Homo sapiens: one gene and its partners. The protein of the gene in region 3 interacts with the protein of the main gene of each other region in a biochemical or structural test. Each region holds a gene or a part of one and is shown on either strand. Other genes may lie near its edges. The genes, in order: SUGT1, USP1, PHLPP1 and BRAP.

Evidence for each region.
Region 1: of the proteins of PHLPP1 (region 3) and SUGT1, one has a biochemical effect on the other in vitro, tested with the Homo sapiens proteins (one study listed by BioGRID).
Region 2: the proteins of PHLPP1 (region 3) and USP1 form a complex in vitro, tested with the Homo sapiens proteins (one study listed by BioGRID).
Region 4: the proteins of PHLPP1 (region 3) and BRAP form a complex in vitro, tested with the Homo sapiens proteins (one study listed by BioGRID).

What each region holds. Positions count from the first base shown.
Region 1 is NC_000013.11:52,697,811-52,701,421, forward strand, and holds the end of SUGT1 (protein SGT1 homolog), read left to right. Parts: 3' UTR 1-3,099; downstream 3,100-3,611. UniProt on the Homo sapiens protein: May play a role in ubiquitination and subsequent proteasomal degradation of target proteins.
Region 2 is NC_000001.11:62,432,767-62,440,085, reverse strand, and holds the start of USP1 (ubiquitin carboxyl-terminal hydrolase 1), read right to left. Parts: upstream 3,038-7,319; 5' UTR 2,686-3,037; intron 288-2,685; 5' UTR 219-287; coding exon 49-218; intron 1-48. UniProt on the Homo sapiens protein: Negative regulator of DNA damage repair which specifically deubiquitinates monoubiquitinated FANCD2. Also involved in PCNA-mediated translesion synthesis (TLS) by deubiquitinating monoubiquitinated PCNA.
Region 3 is NC_000018.10:62,718,539-62,725,575, reverse strand, and holds part of PHLPP1 (PH domain leucine-rich repeat-containing protein phosphatase 1), read right to left. Parts: intron 1-7,037. UniProt on the Homo sapiens protein: Protein phosphatase involved in regulation of Akt and PKC signaling.
Region 4 is NC_000012.12:111,661,942-111,668,978, reverse strand, and holds part of BRAP (BRCA1-associated protein), read left to right. Parts: exon of another isoform or gene 1-21; intron 22-339; exon of another isoform or gene 340-744; intron 745-1,051; exon of another isoform or gene 1,052-1,259; intron 1,260-1,563; exon of another isoform or gene 1,564-2,048; intron 2,049-3,191; coding exon 3,192-3,340; intron 3,341-7,037. UniProt on the Homo sapiens protein: Negatively regulates MAP kinase activation by limiting the formation of Raf/MEK complexes probably by inactivation of the KSR1 scaffold protein.

The DNA of each region.
Region 1 (3,611 bases), on a different chromosome or scaffold from region 3:
GATTGCCAAATACGCATCAGACACTGAGCTAGGTGCTAGGTACTAGGTAAACAAAATTCCCTGCCTTCATGGAGCTTAGCTTGTGGTGGTGGAAAGAAGCCCTCAGCCTGAATACTCAACTTATGTCTGCCGTTTATTCCTTAACACATTAAACTATAGGTAATAGCATATGTTAGTCTAATCTTTGTTTAGCAAAGCTATTTCTTGTTCTGGAATATAAGTACAGTTACAGCAGAATAAGTACCAAGGCAAGATTGGAGAATGACCGGTTGTGAACAGGGACTTAGGAATATGTGTAGCATAGGATTTTATTTTAGAGTTGTTAAAATCAGATCAACAGAGCATGTTTTTATGGGCCATCTGACAAGACTAGAGGTAGCTTTGGAACCTCTTATTCCCTGGAATGCAAACATGTATTTGCATTTCATCCACTGTCAGTATGAGGAGACAAAAACGAAGTCAGGATTTTGGAGCTGGAATGGATCTTAAATACTATGTAGTCCAAACGTTTGGTTTTACAGATGCACTTTTTCCAGAGTGCTGTCATCTCATATACTTTTTTCTTCATACAGGTTTTTAATGTAACTCACTCAGATCGTTGGTGATAGACTCTCTCTTAAAACTTATTTATCCTAATCTTTTTTTTTTTTTTTTTTTTAAGAGACAGGGTTTTGCTCTGCTGTCCAGGCACACAATAGCTCACTGTAACCTCCAACTCCTGGAGTCAAGTGATCCTCCTGCCTCAGCCTCTCAGGTAGCTGGGACTGCACTACTAGTGCACTAAGCTAATTTTTAAATTTTTTTTGTAGAGACAGGGTCTTGCTGTGTTGCCCGGGCTGCTCTCTTAACTCCTGGCCTCAAGTAATCCTCTTGCCTTGGCTTCCCAAAGTGCTGGGATTACAGGCGTGAGCCACCATGCTTAGCTGATTTGCCCTAATCCTCTGCTGACATTCTGATATCGGACAACTAAAATTATAACATTGGGCAGCTATTTTGTATGATATATAGGGTAGTGGTTCTTAAGCTTATTGGTGAGTAACCTTCACTTGGGAAGCTTATTTTTAAAAATGTAGACCTTCATTACTTTCCTCCTGAGATTTTGAATCAGTACCTTTGAGAGAGGGTCCAGTAAATCTTTGTTTTGAATGAACTGATGGTTTTGAAGCAGGTGACCTGGAGGACTGCATGTAGAACACAGTGATGTCAAGGAGTAAAGGAGAGAACAGAAGTGAGATTAGCACTAATCACCTCTAATGCCTTATTTCCAGTAAAGTTTAGAGAAGAGGAAAAGCTACTTGGCTTGCTCCTTTGAAGGTTTTGTTTCCCTCTTAACACAGAAATTAAAAGGTAGAGGAGAGATGCTGAATGATGCTTTTTTTCTTCTTAATCTTGGGGGGTCATTATGATTAAGTTATTGAATCCATATCACCGTATGACAGCACATGATGAAAGAAAATCAAATGTTTGTTTCAATCAAAGTGAAACAAAATGAGAATAACTATTTGGGCAAAACACTTTTATCACTGCTAAGATATTACTAGAACTGAGCAGAGAAATACTCAGAGAGAGCCATGGCATAGTACTAATTAATAATGGGGTACCATTTAGCAACTGGAATATTCTCCGATGATGCCTGTTTAATTACCCATAGGTGCTAAGTGAATGTTAAAAATTACGGTGCTGGTTGAGTAGGCCGAGTAGAATTTGTGTTAGGGCACATCCCATGGAGATCTTTTTTACTGCTTAATTTTTTGGAGTTACCTCAGTAACTTAACAGGCAGGAATATGGTTTTAATGGAAAGGAAACCATTTGCCTTTAACAGCATTAGTCCCGCTAAGAGAAAGTTTTTGCTTGTCTAGTTTATTACAGGTCTTTGACTTTGTCAGTATATGGCAAATTTAGTATAAAAGATGATTAATTATCAAGGCTGATGAAATATAGGCAGCTGAAAAGAAAATTCTTAGCAATTCATACCTTAGAAGGAACCCTGAAGGACAGGACGCCATAGAAATCCTGTTTTTTTAAAAAAGTAATTTCAAGTAAGTTTGCAAATGCAATGCTAGTAAAAAGTATATAGAGGTATGTCTTTCACACTATCTTGTTACTATTAGAATTTTTGTAGCCATGTGCAGAGGAGAGAAAAGGTGTTGGATTTTCTGCAGTTCTGATTCAGTTCTAAGAATTTGGTGTGAAAAGAATGTTTGCAAAGGAGCAGGCACAAAGGTGAGAACAGGAATACGAAACACAACATCTGTAAATGACTAAATTCAGAGGGAATTTAGTGGGGCATATCTCTTAAATGGTTTTGAATAATTTGGTGTTTTAACCAATGACTTAATTTAACTTAGTGGGTATACTGTTCCCAGTCCCATTACTGATTTTTATTCCTCTGTGATAACATACACCCAAATAAAGACTGCTATGTATTTGACTTTAAAACTATAAAGATGTAAAAAAGGTTCACTAAGCCAAACACCTTAGAAAATAGCCTCAGCTATTTGCTATGTTTATATTATACCTGCATAAAAGTATTTATGTATAGATGTACTTACCTTACACAGTAAGTACCTAAAATTTGTAAATTGAATACTTTTGAATGTAAGCAGTTGAAGTAAAACCTGTAGTGAGTTCTTCAGTCAGTCAACACTAAACCTGTTTTGTAAATTTGATGCTAGTATTATACTGGACTTTCTCAAAATGAAGTACACCTATATATGCATATAGTATATGAGCATGTGTATTTGTACAAAAGCCCTTCAAAAGGAGTTCAGCTTTTATAAACACCAAAACACTCTCTGCCTGTAAAATGTTTTTGCTGAAATTTGTATCATTAACTCTCAAATTTACATCTTCATGTTTGAGATACGCTTTTAGGACTGTCTATGCATGTAGACTTTGGTCAACTCTCTCCTCCTCCCTCAATAAATCAGTTAACTTAAAAAATATATTGTGACCATTTTTATAAAATACATGTTCATAAAACAGATCAACATATTTAGCTTATACAGAAATAAAATTAAGTCAATCCACTCACAAAGAATTTCTATTTTGTAAAAATGTAGCTTGTATTTCAGTATAATAAAATCTGATGTAAGAAACTGTTGAGTGGGTTAAGTGGTTATTCTTAGTATTATATCTACTTTTTTAGTGTCACAGTTATTTGAGGTGCTGGTGGAAGGGGAGGTGTAAAAACACACAAGTTTTTGCAGCCAGAAAATGAAAACATTTTCCATGTGCTGACTAAATGGCAGCTGTCACATATTTCCTTCCATTCCGAGTCAAACTAGGACCTTGAAATCTAACTTGAGATGTTCCATCAGGATTGGTTTGTACCACTACTGAGAATTAAATGAGTATCTAATGAAGTACCAATAATACACATAAGTCTATACACACATACTAACATTTCAGTCAAGATTCAGCACAGCAAACTGGGCTGTATTTGCAACTTTTAGACTGGCCTGGTTAAAAGTAATTTGAGAAATTAGTAGTACCAAGTTGTGAAGAAATTTGTAATTCTTCCCTGTTGCCCTCTCTTCCTTTATTGAATGCTCATCTGTCCACTTCTCTTTCAAAGTAGACCCTTATTTTCATCCTTGAATACAATTTA
Region 2 (7,319 bases), on a different chromosome or scaffold from region 3:
GCTGCTTTACTGTAGAATTTTTAAAGTACAGAAATGTAAGATACATACATTTCAGATGCTCTATATTCAGAAGCTTTTTCTTCATTTTCTTGAGAATCTGTGAAATCCAAAGCTCTCTTAGTTTCCTTTTTCTGAAAAAACTTTAAGGAAAGTCTGTTTTTCTTTGAAGGGCTACCTCTTGAAAGTCCATTACTTTCACTAGGTATGACACCAGGCATTTTTTTCTTCAAATCCCAAGGAGTGTCAAGAGTTAATTTATAGAGGAAAGTTGTAATCACCAATTATATCTGTTAATCACAGAGAAAGTTTCATTAGTTTTTGGTTATCAGTTTTGGCAACAAAATCATCAATTTTGAAAACAAATTTACCAAGGGAATGGTACAAATTAGAAATTAACATTTGAAAACCTAATGCCTGCCAATAAGCACTCAATATTTATTGCTTAAATGAAGAAGCATACCACACTGTTCTTAAAGAACAAAAAACAGAAGCTACTGAATTTTTAAAATCAGCCTGCTATGGATTAAGGGTCGCATTACAAAATATCCTATTTAGTAGACCTACAGTAAAATAGTATAAGTAGTAAAAACTTATTATTTCAAGGGCCGGAAGCGATAGCTCACGCCTGTAATCCCAGCACTTTGGGAGGCCGAAGCGAGTGGATCACGAGGTCAGGAGTTCGAGACCAGCCTGACCAACATGGTGAAACCCCATCTCTACTAAAAATACAAAAATTAGCCGGGCGTGCTGGCGGGCGCCTGTAATCCCAGCTACTCAGGAGGCTGAGACAGGAGAATCCCTTGAATCCGGGAGGCGGAGGCTGCAGTGAGCCGAGATCGTGCCATTGCACTCCAGCCTGGGCCATAGAGCAAGACTTAGTCTCAAAAAAAAAACAACTTAATATTTCATTATAATGATTCATTCAGAAAATATTGACTGAGCACTACCACCTCTAATTCTCAAGTACAAGGTAGGAAAGGATGAATGGAAAATCAAAGTAGTGCTGGACGATGAGTCCTCTCTTCCAATGCCTTTTCTAGTTATTAACATGGATATATGAAAATAAAGTACCTAAAAAGCTTATTAAAGAATAATTTGCATTCAAGGCATAGAGATGGTGTTAAGTTATACCTAAAACCGTAAGTGAAAGATAAAACACAAGCAAAGTTGAGACCGTGATAAAAAAAACTGTTCGATGCACTTTGTGTAAATCCAATTCTTAATGCACTAGAAACCACAATACTCGTTTTCCAAACTTTTTAAAAAACTTTGGATTTTAAAAATAGTGCTTTGAGTAGGAAAAAAAGATGATTTGGTTTGCCATTTGCAACTTTCCCACCCTGTTTTAAAGTAAAACTTGCACGTGAAAAAAAATGGCAACATTTGTAGGAGTGTAGGAGTTAATATTTTCTACATCAGGCCTATTTTTCAGGACATGGGAGGAAAAATTATCTGACTAGAGTATTACCATAAAATTACTTAAAGCCCAAAACTTCAGCAACGAGTTTCAAATTTAAAATGCAGAGTAATAAAATGAACTACACAAGACTCACTCAAATTTCATCCTTAATAAGCATTTCACATGGCTGACACTGATCTAGGAATTCATACTGAACTCAGCACACTGAAACCATTTCTGAGACCCAAATCAGGAAGCACTGGAAAGCTGATCCATCTCTCCATTCTGTCTCCAACTTCACTTACTCTCCTGTCTACCTAATGCTTCTGAGGAAGCGCTGTCTTCTGAATGATAAACCAACCTGCGCTAAGTTCTCAGGGATCGCCAAGCATTAATGATTCTGATAAAAGGTTTTTCTCGAGAGCCAATTTAATGGATGACAGAAACTGGATCTCAAACCGACAGAGTAACCAGACTACACAGAAGGGAAGAATGATTAGGCAGGTGAAATAGCGGATCGTCAGCTTAATCAAAAAACCAAACCTCCTAGCCCCTCAAAGCAAAGCTCACACCGAGAATGTAACATTTTGCCAGGTGCAGTATCTTCCTTGCTATTTCTTGCTCCTGGCTTTCCTTGTAACTGGGGGGCTGTTACATCCAAAATATTTCTCCTGTAACTAAATCAACTTTCGCAGAAAGCACGACGAATCGACCATTATCTGTTGACAGCGTGAACACTCAGTCCCAATAGTTTTAAATTCTTTATAAGATGACACGACTCGATTCCGATTTTTCAACAAAAATCTACAAGGACATCTTCGCCAAGGTTTAAGACACGCGGCGTTCTAAACACTTCTTGAAAAAGTGTAAGTGAAAGAAAATGCGCGGTAAAATTTCGCAATTACCGACACAGGGCAACCTGCGTGGAAACGTTTCTTTCTCCCCATCCTTCACCGCTCTCGGGAACGGAAAGAAAGCTGGAAGGACGAGCAGCGACCAGGCTGCCCGGTCGGGGGAGGCTGGCGGCGGCGTCCTCGGCCCACACCCCCGCGCCGGGCGCCCTCGCCGCGGAGTTGGCCTATTTACGCCCAGCCCGCACCTGCCTTCTCGCGTCCCGGCGGCGGCAAGACAGGCGCCACGCCCGAGGCACACACGGCTCCCCCTGGCAGGTCGACCAGGGTGCGAGGCCAACACGGTCCCGGGGTCTCCCCGGCAGCTCCTCTCCCGCGCCGGCCGAACTTGCCCCCGCGCCCGGGAGCCGGCCCCTCCTCCCAGGCCCTCCTTACCTGGTCATGGCCCAAAGCGAAGTCCGCGGCGGTGACGCCGGCAAGTCCAACCCGAATGAGTGTGGGTGCGACAGGTGAGTCCCTGCCCCGAGCCCGCCGGGTCCCCGGCCCCAGGAAAATCTGGTCGGCTCGCCCTCCCCGCGGGGGAGTGACCATCCGCTCCCAAGAGCGGGAACCCCGACCGCCGCTCGCTCCCGTCTTGCACCAACACCAACTACATCCCGGGAGCGGCGCCCATCTGCGCCCGCCCCGGGAGAGCCAGGAGCGCAACAAGCAGCGGCCCCGCTCGCCGAACGCCTGAACCGCTAGGGTCTTTAGCACTCCGCCACCGAGGGGAACTTGGCGCGTTTTCCTCAGTCTCAGGACCCCCGTGTTTTAGCCTCCGCCCGCGCCAGCGCTGCGATTGAACGTGGCGTCCTTTGAAATTGCCGGTTCCAGTCTCCACGCTGCAGAGACACGAAAGGCAGGAGCCGTCTCGCGACGGCCACTCGCCCCTGGCACGCACGGGCTCCGGAGCCAGCTGGGACTGTAGTTCCCCAAAAGCCTAACGGGTTCCACAGTTTCAAACAACGCAGGCACAGAGCCGGGCAGCTCGTGCGGGTCCTCGCTGAGGGCGCGCGCGAGGTGCTAGCGGCCTGGCTGGCGGGCTCGAGCCTCACACCCTTTTTTTAACCATTCGTGCGCGCGAGTTGAGGGAAAAGCGTACGGGTCGGGAGACGGGACAGAGAGCAGACGGGATGGGCCACCACCTCGAGAAGGAGCCCAAATTCACCAATCCATGATGAACAATCCCCAAAACCGCGCCTCCCACCGCCCGGGGGAAGCCAATCAGAAGTACCTAGACCAAAGCCAATTAGATGGGCGGGAGCAGCAAGCCCATCTAATAGCAAAAAAGAAGAAAGGTGGGCTCCAGCCAATCATTGTTCGACATACGGAGTGTTCCTCAGGCGCGGTGCCCCTCCTTCCGCTCTCATTGGCGCTCGAGTGCGCGCTTTCGCTGCCGACTGTTAAAATCTTGTTTGGCGTTTTGTTAATCCTCGACGGTGGGACGCCGCGGAGGGTGCGGCTTCCGGAGCGAGGCCCTCGCGGTAAGCCCCGCCTCCGTTCGTGCGTACGCGCCCGGGCGGGGTTACCAAGAGAGCAGCTTCGGAAAATGGCTGCCCGGCTGGACGCCGCCGCGCTTGGGCTTTCAGTTCGGAGTCGCGGCCACACTAGGCCTAGGGCCATCCAATGAGACAAGGCGCTGCCACGGATAACAATACATGCTCAGGCGAATGCTGTAGAGCTGAGGCCCGGTCCTCAGCCCCTGCTCGCCTCATTTTCGCCTGTTTACCTCTTCCCTTTCTCGGCCGCAGGAGGAAACGAAAGAACAGTTTCAGGCCCAGCTCCGGCCGCGGGAGCTTCCCAGGGTTCCCGCGCGAGCCCTCCCAAAGGGTTCAGGAGCGGCAGGCAGGCCTCATCTGGTTGTGTGCTTCCTTTTGTGTTTGTGTGCCTGCTTTGGTGAGGTGACCTCAGCTCAAGTGCTGCAGTTAAGCAGGATACGTTCAGCCCAAATCCATTTAATCAAGTATTTTTAAGGTGCCTACTATGTGCCAGGCATTTTTCAAGGCGCGAGGGATGTAAAGGCATTCCCTGTCATAAAGGAGCATTACATTCTGGAGAGGGAGATACAAGTGACGCTAAGATAAGTGATAGATACGATAGCCTGGAAAGACCTCTTTGAGTTGACATTTGAGCAGAGCTGAATGAAAAAGCTTGGAGGAATCTGAGGGAAGAATGGTGCGGGCAGAGAGAACAGCAAGTTACAAACGTCCTGAAGCTTAATGTGGTTGGTGTTTTGAAAAGAAGCAAGGAGGCCAGGGCGCTTAGAGCGCAGTCAATTTGGGAAATAAGATGGGAGGAGATGAGATGAGTGAGAAAGGCAGGACCCTGGGTAAGCCGAGTAAGGAGATGGGAGTCGTTAGATGATTCTGAGCTGGGGAGTGGCGGGATTACACGTTGACCTTCAAGAGTACAAGCAGGGTCGGGCGTGGTGGCTCACGCTTGTAATCCCAGCACGTTGGGAGGCCAAGGCGGGCTGATCTCTTGAGGTCGGGAATTCGAGACCAGCCTGACCAACATGGAGAAACCCCGTCCCTACTAAAAATACAAAATTAGCCGGGCGTGGTGGCGCAGGCCTGTAATCCCAGCTACTCCGGAGGCTGAGGCAGGAGAATCGCTTGAACCCAGGAGGCGGAGGTTGCGGTGAGCCGAGATCGCCTCACTGCACTCCAGCCTGGGCAACCAGAGCAAAACTCTGTCTCAAAAAAAGAAAAGTACCAGCGGAAAGGTCAGCCAAGATGCTGGTTCAATAAGCCAAGGAATAAATTATGGTAGTCTGGAATAAGATGGTGGGATGTTGAAAACTGGTAGGGTTCAAGATATATTTTGAGCACAGCCAACGAGCTCTACTGATGGATTGGCTGTATGATAATGTAAGAAAAAACAGGTCGGGTAGCCAGGGCCGGTGGACCGCTTGAACCCAGGAGTTCAAGATCAGCCTGGGCAACATGGCAAGACCCATCGCTACAAAAAACTCCAAAAATTGGCCGTGCGTGGTGGCACGTGCCTGTAGTCCCAGCCACTCGGGAGGATGAGGGAGGAGGATCCCCTGGCTGCAGTGAGCCGAGATGCACCACTGCACTCCAGCCTGGGCAACAGTGTGAGGCCCTGCCCTCCACCCTCCCACCCGAAAAAAGAAAAAAAAACAAAGAGTAACGATTTTTTTTTTAACCTGAGCAACTCAGTGTTGGTCCTTGCTAAAATGGGGGTCTTAGTAGGCTCAATGGGAAGGATCATCGTTCTTAGAATATTAAGATTGAGGTGTTTAACGTACAAACAGATGTTGAACCAGCAGATCACGAAATACACAAGGACAAGATTAGAAAATGTATATAGGTCAGTCTTAGCCATTGTGCACCACAGAGTGGCAGTGTCTCATTTTCTAGTACTAGCATAATTATTGCTACTTTCAAACTCTACGAGAACAGATAAGCAATTCTACTTTCCCATATTCCTGAGATCCTATTGTCTGCAGCCACTATTCTTCCTGTACACAATGTGTGGTATCAGTTAAGATTCATTTGCGGAAAATAGAATCCATTTTAGCTAGTATAAACACAAAGATATTGAATACTTGGGAGGGTTGATTAAATAGGCTCTAGATTAGTTTTTCAGGAATGAGTCCCAAAGTCTTCCCAGAACCAGGCCACCAAGGAAGCAATGACTCTTCTATGATCAGGAAATGACGTCTCTGAATCACACTGCTGCTGCCATGCCTAGGAAACCACCATCAGAAAGCTGCGTGCACCGCTGACCCTAGAACCACACTATACCCACTATGATCTGCACCAGTGCCATGCATATCCTACGTCCCGTCTGTCAAGGCCCACAGGACAAGTGGCTAGACACTGAGGTTTCTGCTAATGCTGCTTCAGAAAAATCAAACACCTCCACAACTGTGCTTGTCAACAGCAATAGCAGAAGTTTGGTGTGTCTCTGGCAATATGATTAATGTAAAAATTTAATATGCTTCTCATTCTTTTGCTTTCAGTCAGTTGTTTGTGGGAGAAATTCTAGCCACAGTTCTTGCCTAGATGAGTTTTTAAGCCCCGAAACTTTTTTCCCAGTTTCTGTGTGCTCCCCAGTTACCCCACTCTTAATGACAGCTAATCCCTTTGGAAACAATGGGATTTAATAGGTTCACAGCATTCTCAATCCTATATTTGTCAGTCTTGTGTGGGTAAATGCCAGGCATATTTCCTTCCAAAGTTTCACAGGCACTGTTTCTGTGTACAGTCATCCCTTGGTATCCATGGGGGATTGGTTCCAGGACCGTTATGGATATCAAAATCCGAGGATGCTCAAGTCCCATATATAAAATGGCATAGTATTTGCATACAACTTATGCACATCCCACCTATACTTTAAATCATCTCTAGATTACTTAATTACCTAATACAATGCCTACACATCATTCACATGGATTTAACATAGTATTTAACACTTGGCACGTGGCAAATTCAAGTTTTGCTTTTTGGAACTTTGTGTACCTTTTTCATAAGATTTTTTGATCTGTGGTTGGTTGAATCCATGTATATGGAACCCATGAATGTGGAGGGCCAACTGTACTTCAGTCTAAAGGTATAGAAGAAGTGTGGTTTTTTTCCGCCCTTTAAATCTTCAAATTATGAAACTTTTATTTTTATTTTTTTGAGATGGAGTCTTGCTCTGTCCCCCAGGCTGGAGTGCAATGGCATGATCTTGGCTCACTGCAACCTCCACCTCCTGGGTTCAAGCAATTCTCCTGCCTCAGCCTCCCAAGTAGCTGGGATTACTGGTGCCTGCCACGACGCCCAGCTAATTTTTGTATTTTTAATAGAGACGGGGTTTCACAGTGTTGGCCAGGCTAGTCTCGAACTCCTGACCTCGTGATCCGCCTCGGCCTCCCAAAGTGCTGAGATTACAGGCATGAACCACCACGTCCCGCCCAAATTATGAGACTTTTAATCCACTTGGATTACAGCAGAATTTCTCCTTTAGCAAAACTGTATTCTTTTCCATTTCTACATGCAAATTGGTTACTTCTGGCCTGA
Region 3 (7,037 bases):
GACTTCCAAATCAGCACACAACAAAAGCCCAAAGATACTGAACAAGTTGTTTCAATTATGTCACAGAAAGGTAGAACTGCGTACATGTACCTGAAAAATAAGCTAAGTTGCAATTAATTTTGACACATCTTTTTAAAAATAATTCAAAGAAGATAATGTTGAATCTTTTTAATACATACATATTTATTTTTTTATTTATTATTTTTTTTTTTTTTTGAGACTGAGTTTTGCTCTGCCACCCAGACGGGAATGCAGTGGTGCAATGTTGGCTCACTGCAACCTCTGCCTCCCGGGTTCAAGCGATTCTCCTGCCCCAGCCTCTGGAGTAGCTGGAATTACAGGCGTGCGCCACTAGGCCCAGCTAATTTTTTGTATTTTTAGTAGAGACAGGGTTTCACCATGTTAGCCAGGCTGGTCTCGAACTCCTGACCTCAGGTGATCTGCCCGACTCAGCCTCCCAAAGTGCTGGGATTACAGGTGTGAGCCACCGCACACAGCCAACACACACATATTTAAAGGGAAATTTTTTTCAAAATTCATGCTTAAATTTTTCTCCCAAATTATTTTTTTAATTCAATGATTTTTTTCTAACACTTTTATTCTTTTAACAATTTCACCTTCAAAGTACTGAATGAACTAAGAACATTGATTTTCTAACACTGTACCTCTTCTCTGCCAACTGTCAATAGTTCTATCATGCATCCCACAAAGGTAACATCACTGATGAAATCTAATTTCTCTCTCTGCAATTAAAATACCCACCTGTTCCATCAGAAGTTCCTTTCTTACAATCTGTCAAAGTGATATGCAACCCCTCAAAAGCACTGATTAGAATGAAAAGAACTAGGAAAAAACCTTGAATAGAGAAACGACTAACTGTGTAAAGCACACAATTTCTTTAACTTTCATTTTTAATAGTATTAATATAAAGAACCACCAAAGACAGTAAGTATTACACATTCACAGTGTGGGAAAAAAAGAACACTGGACAGATCATCAAAATCCTAGGTGGTGGTCCTAACTCTGTAACTGACTTAACCAATGATTCTGGACCAGATTCTTTACCTCACAGGTTTACTTTTCTCATCTATAAAAATACAGATGTTGGACTAAATTATCTCTACAACATCCTAAATTCTATTACCTGTCCAAAGTAACAGTGCAAAAAATCCATTTTCTTAAAATGTTTTTTCTCCTACTGACTCTAAGCACCGGTAGGCAAGCACACAGCTCACCATAAATAAAGCTAACTAGCCAGCAAATTTTACACATTTGTATCCCTCTAATACAGTTATTAGAGTAAACTTGATGAACTAGACTATGAAGGCATCTTGCTAAGTTAATTTAAGAATTTCACTTTAACTTAAAAGAGGATGTACTTTATACTCATCTCTGGCATGCTGAATTTTACTTCAGGAGTAGGAATGACAGGGAACGGGGTAATCAAACATCGATTCTTGTCCTAATCTACACCAAAGAGGAGGTCTGCTTTGTTTGGTTGGCAACCTCCAGCTGACTTGTGTACATTAGGTCCAAGTCCATAAGAAAAGGCAGGGGATTTGACAGTTTTAAGCCCATAGCCATGTCTTACAGAACTTAAAACAACTACAACTTTCAAAGCCCTTCAAAAAAAACAGGCTCTCTAATGAAGCCTCAGAATGTTACGAGTTGGAAGAGATCTTGGACTCGCTCTACTCCAACCCCATCGTCTTACAAATGAGGAAATCAAAGCCCAGGGTAGGTTAAAATGAATGCCCAAAGTCATGCCAAGTTTCCCAACTCTCAGACTACTTTCTCTAAAAAGCAGTACATTTTCTCTCACAGTGTGAGATAAAAGGAAAAAATTGTTTCCCAAAGTTCTGTTTTTGAAGAGGAGAGTGACTTTGACCCAACCCCCACCCCCAACACACCAGCCAAGCTCTTGCTGTATTTAAAAACATGCCTGGTATTTGAAAAGAAAGCCCAAACACTCTAACACATTATTAACTGAGGCAGGTATATGAAAAGATTCATTCTCCACCTGCTCTTCCTCAGATGTCTGATTCAGAAGAAATAGAGAGCAACAAATACAAATCTCTTCCTGCTTAAACAGAATGTGAGAAAAACCCTTTAAAAAAATTACAACCAATTCAAATTCTCTCTAACTTCACTTTCTAATTAGATTTCACTCATTATTGAAATGGTCCAAAACCAAATATTTCAAATTTCATCAGTCTTCAACTGAATGCTTTCACAAACTAGAAGCAAGGCTAATTTACTTTTAGCCAAGCTCCAGTTAGAAAAAAATATGCCAAAATTCTGGATGTTTTTTGCTTGTGTTTTTCTAAAGTATTGATATCTCCAAAATCATACAATATGTGCAACCTCCAAACAAAGTATTTTATGGAGTTTTCATTATTAACTTCTAGGTCACAAACTCAGAGGCCACTAGGCTTACACCTCCACAAGACACTTTATTGTTAAACACACTTTACGATGTATAAAAATCTCAAATGTAAAAAATACAACAGGGAAAAAAATTACTTCAGTATGCATGTGGCATTACAAAATGGTTATGCCTTGTTTCACCTAACATACCAAAAAGTATATGAGGCCAAGTCATGGTAACACAACAAAACCATTCCAACTCTAAAGTCAAAGAATAACAACACTTCATTAATCCAGTAACTGTTATTATGCTTGATAAAAAGCATAATATCACACATCTTCAAAGAGTTGCTATTTCACAGTTACCTAAATATACTAACATCTTTTAATCAAAGTATCATTAAAGTCTATTCTTCCTAAGTACTTGAGTTTCAATTTATCATAAGTTTCTGGAGTTGAAGTTTCATACAAATCCAGTCAGTCATACAGCCTTAGGTTATAAATATCTAATATATCTAATGAATTCATATGGTGGATTTTGTTTAATTATATTATCTTTAGAAAGCCAAAGGTAAGTATAAAAAAGGGTTTGCCGTAGAATCACAGTGACGTCAGGCCAGATTCAAAACCCCTCATTACCAGTGTTCCACCAGATGCATGTGATTAAAGGGATGGAATGGGTTTAGAAGGTGGAACTTTAAAGAAAAAAAAAGACTTCATTTTCCCAGGCTGTTTTAGACATTTTGATAACATCTCTTTCTCTTTTTCAAAATGTCAGGCGTCTTTAAAGGAATCGTTTTTCTATTGAGCGGCTTCAGGATCTCTGGACTTTCACAGTACAATCAAACCCTTCTCCAGTCCAGATAGACTGAATTATGTTAAACCCTGGCACATAACAAAATCATTAAATCTAAGATGCCTCATTTGACAGATGTCTCATTAAATTCACTGCAAAATTAAGTACGAGATGCCTTTGAAAAGTTGGGAGAAACCTGTTAACTCTAAGAAAACTTTCAGAGAGAGCTATTCTCTCAAAATCCAGAGTTCACTCACGTGAAATAGAAGATATTAATAGTATGTAGCACATCTAAAATCTCCTGCCATGGGAGAAATGCCGCTGTGTGTATGTGTGTTTAACACATCCCTGGGGACCCAAACAGGATGGAAGCTGAAAAATCAGGGCACACACCACCAGCTGCTTAACAAAATTCCACAAATTAAATTCAACAAATGTTAAACTAAAATGCCAAGGACTATACTAGGCTTAGATCACATACAATGTCAGTGAATGTTATGTTACCAGTAAATGAAAAGCTAATTTCAGGATTCTAAGAAGAGAATGAGAAACAACAAAAACATTTTACACTTAAAAAATAACTTATCTTTGTATATATCAATCATTTAAGGTGGGTGATTTGATAATCTTATAGCAACCAAAAGATAAAACTTTCAACCTAAAACTTTACACAAATTCATTTACACTCATCTCCTGCCCCTACAATTACTTCAATGAGTACAAAAGACACACGAATTTAGGAATAACTATGAAATTCAAGGAGAAGAACTTACTATCTCTAGCACTATATAACATGAATTATAAAAATTATACAAGAGCACAATAACATCAAGAAAGCATCATTAAAAGACAACTCGATTTTTTAATAATAAGTTTAAGCAAATAAGATATTTAATGAGAAATATTTTCAGTTACTTTAAAAGCCATGTTTTAAAGCAACTGAACTGTCACACATACACACACACACACACACACACACACACCCACACCCCTCAAAAGTTACCCACTTTTCAGGCAAAGTGTTAATTCTCTACTTCCCAATGAAGATTTACAGTTTAACAAATAGGTATGCTTGAATAAGAGAATAAAGAACTATTACGTAAACTTTAATTCATATCAACTTAAATCCAAGCATGACTATTTGCAACCAGGATATTTAGAACACTTCAGTACTCTTTCCATACTGTCTCCTTATTTGTCCGTCTTGGTTCTTTACATTTTTAAAGGCACCATGATAAACAGAACCATCCACATTTCACAAGAAATACCACTTTGAACTAGAGGATAATACCACCTCATTACCAACAAAAACAGCATATTTTTGGAATGCTTTTAACCAAGGGAAAAATTCAAGTGTAAATTTAATTTAGCATCGATTCATGGAAAGTGATACGAATTGCAAAATAAAATACCCAAGCTCTCTATTCTCCGCCCTCCCGAGGACGGAAATACGACGAGTCAGATCTCTCTGTGCATCAGTTTCTCCATCTGAAAAGAGGATTGCCACTGACTCCTCCTTAACACTGTTTTTGAAAGGGCGAATGAAATAATTTATGTAAAAACCCTTCAAGATGTTTGAAGATAATAAAAACCAATGTATTGTAGATGTTATCACGCCATAGTAGTGAAGGGTGGCATGTACTTTACAACAAAAACAAACAAATATAAAATATAAATATAAAAATGTAAAATACTAAAAAAAAAATTTAAAGCCTCTGTACTGAAAATTAAAGGGACTGTTCAAGCACACACTGGTGTCACACGTTCGAACCGCGTTACTCAATACTGCTGTAATTATAGTAATAAGAACCTGCTTGTCAATATTATAGCTTAATGCTGAACCACCTCTCCCCTCTTGGTTTGCATGTAGGAAACCACATTAAGGTTTGATCATTCCCAGAAGAGAAAATAAATAAAATATGACAGGGATAAAAAGATTGTTCCCGCGAAATCCCAAGGAGTCACACACAAAAATACCTTGTCCGAGATTCACTAGGTACAGTGAATGTGCACTTTATTCTGTCAACACCCTTTGTCATTACTAAAATTCGAACAGAAATTGCTAGACTACTCAGATCTAAGTGCTGGGAGAAAAGAGTCAAAAAATATAAAAAGATATAGTTTAATGCTGCCCTACATCAATGACAAAGGCTCCCCAGAGAGTCTAAAACAAAAGCTCATTCATGTTTAGGAGTCCATAACTTATGTCGAGCAACCTTAAGTTCTTGAATTTTTTAACCTATAATTACTCTCTTTCAGGCAAAATTTAAGATGTCCGATTTTAAAAGGATATTAAATACTTAAGTAACTTCAGATAAAGCTAATTAAATTTTCCCATATCTTAAGTCAGCTAAGAGAATGGTGGCCTGGTAGATGCTATAACAATTTTCAAACCAAGTTTTCATTAACAACTCTGTAATTAGATAGTACCTTTATCCAGGGCCTTCTCGCTCATTAAAGACTTTCATTTTACTTTACCCAGATAAATATTTAAATATTCAAAGCAACCACAAATGGCTTTCAAAGCCTCTAAAAAACAACCCTAGTCAGGTTATAAATACTAAAATTGAACAGAAAGGTGATCTTCAAGAGAGCAGACCCTCAAGACAGTAGATAAGCTCAATTTAAATGCAGAAAAATATTCAAAAGAATTTGAAAGCAACTTCCTAGCTATCCTTAACCCCAACTATACGTAAACAAAACAACATGCAGCAATAAATTTAAAAATAAGTTATGTATAAAATTACCAATGGGGTACAGAATTTTCAAAAACCCTGTAAAAGATGTCATCTAAAACAAACATTAATTATCCTCTTCCTACAGAAAAAAACTACTACCAAAATGTAACTCTGTCCTGTTGAGGTGTCCTATATTCTGTTGGAACACAGAGATCATTTCTAGGAATCACTTCCAGCCTGGTGCAAACCTTCACTATATGTGGAGTCCTGACAACGTTTCCATAAATGAGACTACGCTTTTGTTCATCAATAACTGAACTTCTTTGCAAAAATTCAAGTGGATTCACCATACACTAAATTTTGTTCTACTGCAAATGAATAACAGCAGAGATGTCTGGTATATTAACTTAGGCTTAAAATAAGCTCAACTTTGCTTTAAAGCCAAAATAAGCAATTAGACAACTTCGCAACAATCAGGCATTTTTCTTCTAGGACACCTGTACACTGGCTTCATGTTCAAGAATAGGGTGGATACTTTGTGTGGCACCCCCACACATCTGAGTATATGTAAGCACATACTCAGAGGCATACATGCATTTATGCTGTACATATAGAAACAAGGCAGTAAGTGCAGAATGAGGTAACAATTACTGCTTTTCATAAAGAACAAAACAAAAAGATTAAAAGATCATGCCAAACATTTTAAGATTTAACCAGGAAAGACTTTTTTAATATTGAGATGAGGTTTTGAGAAAAAAGAAAGTGCTTATTACCCATTAGAATATTTTAGACACTCTTGAAGAGAATCAAAGGGAAACACAGATTCAAACTTTGTTAACTGTGACACCCAAAACCTTTCCGTGGACACTTATCACAATGGATATATCCAATCATAAGCAAACTCTTTCCATATAAAATTTGTTCAAACTCTAATACATCCCTTGTTTTTATATACAGTTCCTTCCATGTAGTTAAAGGGCACCTATTTTTAATGCTTTTGTAAAATAACAATATTTTACAAATTACATGAATTAAAGGAGAAAAGAATACAGTTGTTGATCTTACATAAAAAATCATCTATTTCCTGGACCATAAACTTTAAAAGCCATGTCATCGAGTTGACAAATTGTCTTCAGATACTGCAAATGCTACTGTATTACGATTTGGTTTTCTTTACAAGTAAAAGATTCATCAGA
Region 4 (7,037 bases), on a different chromosome or scaffold from region 3:
GCTTAGCTCTTAAAAGAATTTTTTTTGGCCAGACGCAGTGGCTCACGCCTGTAATCCCAGCACTTTGGGAGGTTGAGGGTGGATCACGAGGTCAGGAGATCGAGACCATCTTGGTTAACATGGTGAAAACCCATCTCTACTAAAAATACAAAAAATTAGCTAGGCGTTGTGGTGGGCACCTGTAGTCCCAGCTACTCGGGAGGCTGAGGCAGGAGAATGGCGTGAACCCGGGAGGCGGAGCTTGCAGTGAGCCGAGATTGTGCCACTGCACTCCAGCCTGGGCGACAGAGCGAGACTCTGTCTCAAAAAAAACAAATTAAAAAAAAAAAAAAAGAATTCTTTTTAATGTAAACTGTTGAATATTTGAAATAGCCCACTTCACCTTAATGGGTCTTGTGTATCTTCATTTGTCTTCAAAGAAAAACCATTTGCTACCAAAGTAAATCAGTATTTCGAATGTGCTTCTCTTGTTTTTTGTTTATTAGCTAGTTGCTGTAAGCATTTCCACCAGAACTTGAGCCAAATCATAAGGAAGCTGTTTCTTTTAAAATACAAACCACCACCAAAAAATTAAATGTACATATTAAGCATTTGACTATTTTTATTTTTTTAAAAAGTATAAACACCAAAAAAAAAAAAATTAACATTGTATGAAGATGGAAAACAAGAAGATACACTTTCTGTAACTTTGTCTGAGGATTTAAATTACTAACTTGTGAATCCAATTTAAATTGAACTTAACTACTGGCTTCCCCCACACCCCGCCCCGACCCAGACGGAGTCTTGCTCTGTCGCCCAGGCTGGAGTGCATTGGAGCAGTCTCGGCTCACTGCAGCCTATGCCTCCCAGGTTCAAGTGATTCTCCTGCCTCAGCCTCCTGAGTAGCTGGGATTACAGGTATGCACCACCATGCCCAGCTAATTTTTGTGTTCTTAGTAGAGATGGGGTTTCACCACGTTGGCCAGGCTGGTCTCAAACTCTTGACCTCGTGATCCGCCTGCCTTGGCCTCCCAAAGTGCTGGGATTACGGGTGTGAGCCACCGTGCCAGCCCCAGCTTTCTTACTAGTAAAATTACATGGTTGATTTTAAATGTATACATGTTGACCAATGGCCTCTCAAAAAGCACATTTTAGATACTGGAGTAGAAGGAAAGAAAATGCATCTTCAAACATTTTTTTGGAATCTCACCACATATACTTTGTGAGATTTGTATATTGTAGGGTGTTAGTTTTTGTATTTTTGTATTGTGTATGAGCTTTTTTTTTTTTTTTTTTTTTTTGAGACGGAGTTTCACTCTGTCTCCCAGGCTGGAGTGCAGTGGTGTGATCTCAGCTCACTGCATCCTCTACCTCCTGGGTTCAAGAAATTCTCTGCCTCATCCTCCCAAGTAACTGGGATTACAGGCACCCACGACCACACCCGGCTAATTTTTTGTGTTTTTAGTGGAGACAGGGTTTCACCCTCTTGGCCAGGCTGATCTTGAACTCCTGACCTTGTGATCCACCCGCCTCGGCCTCCCAAAGTGCTGGACTTAACAGGCGTGAGCCACCCCGCCCGGCATCTTTTTTAATGTGACAGTTAAACACATCTTTAAAAGCATAGTCACAGACAAAAGAAGCATACAGTATAAACATTTCCTTGAAAACTCCTACAATATTATATTTGGAGGCAGCTTCAGACTGTTTTATTGGTGGTAACTGCTCGCTGAGCTCTTTTAGTTGGTAATAACTCCAGAGAAGCATCCTGTGTATATTCCTAACACTTGTTCACTAGCATTTAAGTTTAGAATGAGCCCCAAGTAAAACAATGGAAATGTATATAGAACTCTTAGTTCTTACATGATTTAATTATATCAAAATACATGAATTTAACTTACTTTAATGTAGGCAAACTATCAATTTTTGTCCATTTTCCTGTTTGTTAACATACCTCTCCTAGATATTCTTTTCTTGACCCAAATGAAATATTAACCTAAGGTCAAGCTGGGAGAGAGAAACAACTGAGATGAATGTCTTTACTAAAATACCGATAAATTTGTCAAACTCAAAAAAAAATTGACGTGATAAAATTGGGCATCCTTTGTGCTGGCTGCTGCACGAGGCCTCAGTTTTAGAGATTCCTTTCTTAAATGAACGTGGCTTCTTGAGAGATTTCCTGTAAGTATCTACTCTTCAGGGACTGTAGGTTAATGTGCTTTTTCTCTGTCCATAAGTGTGTGCTCCCTGACCTTTGCCTAAGTAATTCTTTCTCGTCTTCTGGCTGGAAGCGTCAAGTCAAGCACTGTCTTAGGAATGCCTTTCCTGACCATCTAGACTGTCATGCCCCCTAATTCACACCCTGTTGTGGCTTCCTGTACTGTTTGCTTTTTAATTTGATTTTTGTCTCTCCCTCCACTAGATTCTAAACTCTGTGGGGGCAGGAGCTGACTGTTTTTTGGACTTAACGTATCTGTTTTTGCTCACCACTGTTCCACACCTAGAACAGTGTCTGTCTGCTGCACATAGCAGGGGCTCAATCTCTATCTGTACAATGAGGGAATAAAGAAAAATCAGTGTTGTTGGTGCTGTCATCACTGAGTAGAAAGTGTTAAGTTATAACTTACTCTATGGAAAAATCCTTCAGGTCCAGCTATTCTTTTGTTCCTTTGTGTTCTATTATAGTCGTAGACACTTAGAGCTTGAGCTAGGAGTCTGGTCACATTTGAGATTTATATGTTAAGGTTTTGACAGCAGTCTCCCTTCCTGGAATGTCAGTTCTGTAAGGGCAGAGATCTTTGTTTTGTTCACCGCTGTACTCCCAGTACCTGGCACAGTGCTGGAACACAGGAGGTACTCCATCCCTGTTTCTTGAATGAATGAATAAATGAATGAAAATATTACCAATTTAAATTACTTGCTTAGAGTAATGATATTGAGGATATCCTGCCAGGAGTCAAAAAAGCAACTAGAAAACTATTATTAAAAGAAGAAAGGCCTGGCACAGTGGCTCATGCCTGTAGTCCCAGCTACTGGGGAGCCTGAGGTGGGCAGATCTCTTGAGCCTGGGAGGTCAAGGCTGTAATGAGCCATGATTGCGCCACTGGGCTCCAGCGTGGGTGACAGAGAGCGAGACCCTGTCTCAGAAAAAAGAAGGAAAAATAAAGTATTGCTGGTAGATGAAGAGTGAGGCTTATGTGAGGTGTTTCCTGTAGGGCGCCAGCCTCCCAGTGATGGACCTGACTGAACTCCCCAAGTGCACGGTGTGTCTGGAGCGCATGGACGAGTCTGTGAATGGCATCCTCACAACGTTATGTAACCACAGCTTCCACAGCCAGTGTCTACAGCGCTGGGACGATACCACGTGAGTGCAGGGGCCGAACCCCTCTGTGTACAAGCCCATTGCAACCCTTCCAGAATTAAAAAGAGCCACCAGCAGAAATGAACCATTCCAAGTATTTGACTTTATTCAAGAGGTCCTTTTTCTCCTTCCCTTTCCTAAGTTCAGGGAATCGGCATTCTGAGACCAAGTCCTTTTTTAGTATGCTGATTCTGAACCCTTGTGGAATTCCCCAAAGCAGCATGAGTTGTTCTTTCCTTCCAAGAGCCAGAGAGTGAAAAAAAAAAGCAAAGCTTAGTTTGAGGCTCTCGTGCTGCAGTGAAATCTAGGTCTGGAATCTCATGTATCAGCTGCACTTGGTGTCTGCCATTCACTCTGGGCTTCTTATCAACTGGGCTACAGCAGCCTAATATTTTAGCTTTGCTGGGCTGTTGATGGCTTGGTGGCCAGTAGAAATAGCAGTTACTAAGTATGAGATCTACTCTACAGCCTCCTGATTCCCAACATACCAGGTCTTAGTCATAGGTGATGTTGCTACAGACAAAGAACAGGTAAGGCCTGTACCTTTTTTTTACCCCCTAAATCCAGGATGGTTGCTCCCTTTGCAGACTGCACTGTGGGACTTAACCAGAAAGGTGTATCAGATGCTGGCCTTCTGGATTTCCCAGTACAGAGGGGAACCCAGAAATGAAATCACACAAGTAAATAAATCACAGCCATAACCAGTGTTACAGAAGAGCAGTGTGCAGCATTGGGACTGAGAACTGGGGCCCTAATGAAGCCAGGACCACCTGAGAAGTGGCATCTCCAGGAGGGTAATTAGGAGTTAAGCCGGGTAAAGAGCAGAACCCAGAGAAGGCAGTGGGGGAAGGGGAAGATCATGTTCCCAAGCACAGAAGTGAGGAGGGGTGAAAGTCTACAGGAATCTCTGTCCACCCACAAGTGGCCTGGTGGCCGGAAGAAGAATATCAGCTTCACAGAGCGGGGGCCATGCCTGGCTTGCTCACTGCTGTGTCTCTCACACCTGGTGGGGGACGTGGCACACAGTGGTAGACACTGAGGAGCACATAAATAAACTGGGTCTCTGCAGCTTATCACTGCCCTGCTTATTTAGCTGGACAGGAGTCTTGCTCCAATTCCGTGGAGTCCTCAGTCAATTCTTAGGTATCATTTGGGAGTTTTCCAAGGAATTGTCCAGTTGCCTTGAACAAAGCCATACTGAGATATGTGCATTCCTTAAAGTGTTTACCTGTATCTTCAGTCCATCTGCTATACCAGTTAAGTTCTAGGCAATTCTTTGTTCCCCGCCACTCCAGTTTTACTTTTTTTTTGAGACAGGGTCTTGCTCTGTCACCCGTGTTGGAGTGCAGTGGTATGATCACAGCTCACTGCCTCCTCAAACTCCTGGGCTCAAGTGATCCTCTCGCCTCAGCTTCCCAAGTAGCTGGGACTACAGGTGTGCACCATCTCACCCAGCTAATTGTTTTTTTTGTTTGTTTTGTAGAGATGGGGTCTCGCTATGTTGTCTAGGCTGGTCTTGAACTCCTGAGCTGAAGCAGTGTTCCTGCCTTGGCCTCGCAAAGTGCTGGGATTGTAGGCATGAGCCACGATACCCATCCCCAGTATTCCTTTTGATATAAATTAACTGTTACAGAACCATAGCATTTTAAAGTTGGAAGTTTCCTCAGGGACCATTTTTTCCAACAACCTCATTTTATACAGGAGGAGGACACAGGCCCAAAGATAAGAATTTGCAAGCTCAAAGTGTCATGGCCAGAGAATGCCAGAACTGGGACTAGAATTCAACCTGTCATATGGGATGTAAGACATGCCATTTGCCCTCAGAATCATGCAGTTCATTTAATGAGTTTTGAGCCTTGGTACATGCATAGAACTGTGAGAGATGCTGAGACAGAGGAAGCAAATTCAGGTCCTCTTTGGGGTGGTTTGGTCTAAGAGAGTTTACACTTGGACATAAACACATGTGGTTCAGGGTGGAGATTGGAAGAGAGAATGATGGCATCCCCAACCAGGGGTACTCAGGAAGGGCTGCAGTAGGAGGCAGTGTTGGTCTTTTTGATAGAGATGTCAGAGAAGGCTTTGGGAAGAGCTCCCAAAGATCTCATCAGGAAAATAGGATAAAATAATTTTTTGCAGAGAAAGGCAGGAAGAATTTAATAAACTGTTAATTATTATTATTATTATTTTTTGAGATGGAGTCTCACTCTGTCACCCAGGCTGGAGTGCAGTAGCGTGATCTCGGCTCACTGCAACTTCCACCTCCCGGGTTCAAGCAGTCCTCGTGCCTCAGCCTCCCGAGTAGCTGGGACTACAGGCATGTACCACCACACCTGGCTAGTTTTATATTTTTAGTAGAGATGGGGTTTTGCCATGTTGGCCCAGCTGGTCTCGAACTGCTGACCTCAGGTGATCCACTCACCTCAGCCTCCCAGAGTGCTGGGATTATGGGCGTCAGCCACTGTGCCTGGCCGATAAACTGTTGATTATTTTTTAGTAGACAGATGAGGTAGTATATCATAGAATGCTAATTGTTTGTTTACAAGTTTATTCTTGTAATTTTTTTTTCTTTTCAAGATCAAATTTACATTTCAGAAAGATCGTTTTGATCATTTGGGCATAGTGTAGAGAATTAGATTTCAGAACCAGTTCTGAAATCTAATTCTGTTGTTTTTAGTTTTTTGTTTTTTTTTTTTTTTAGAAGGGCTTTTGCCACATTGGCCAGGGTAGACTTGGCTTCAAGCCATCCTCCTGCCTCGGCCTCTCAAAGTGCTGGGATTACAGATGTGAGCTACTGCACCTGGCCTGTTTTCTTATTCAACCACTTTCACAGCCACCACACAGACCGAAGGGATGAGACAAAGCCAATTTCTACTTTCTGCATTCTGCTTTCTGGCTACCATTTCTGTTCTTTCTTTGAGTTTGTCTTCTGTCTTCTCTTTTGATGCTAAAGGAAGAAGTGGACTAGATCCTTTCCTTTCTCTTACACAGATAGAGCTGTGTCATCTGTGACACAGTGTTCTTCCTGTTTATTCCATTTTCTTGGTTTTATTTACTTAGTTGGGTAACTGTTACTAGTTATAGCTTTTTTTTTTAGACGGAGTTTCGCTCTTGTTGCCCAGGCTGGAGTGCAATGGCGCAATCTCAGCTCACCACAACCTCTGCCTCCTGGGTTCAAGCGATTCTCCTGCCTCAGCCTCCCAAGTAGCTAGGATTACAGGCATGTGCTACCATGCCCTGCTAATTTTGTATTTTTAGTAGAGACAGGGTTTCTCCATATTGGTCAAGCTGGTCTTAAACTCCCGACCTTAGGTAATCCGCCCGCCTAGGTCTCCCAAAGTGCTGGGATTACAGGTGTGAGCCACCGCGCCTAGCCACTAGTTATATCTTGAGCATTGTTTCTTCCTGGTGCCAGTTCAGTCAGCCTCAGCTATAACCCACTTTCTGTCCTAGTTGCCCATCTAACAAAAATACTCATGACTAGTATTTAGTATTATTTTGTGTGGAGTATAATAGAAAACAGTTAATGGATTTTTTCAACATTGTTTTTATTGGCTTTTTGTAAATTGAGACATGAATGCCTGATAGAGCACTGGTATCTTCCACATGATGTTCACGGTGCAGTGAGATATCATGTGCATTTCAATAAGTACATTAACACCTTTGTGTTTAGCCAGGTGCGGTGGCTCATGCCTGTTATCCC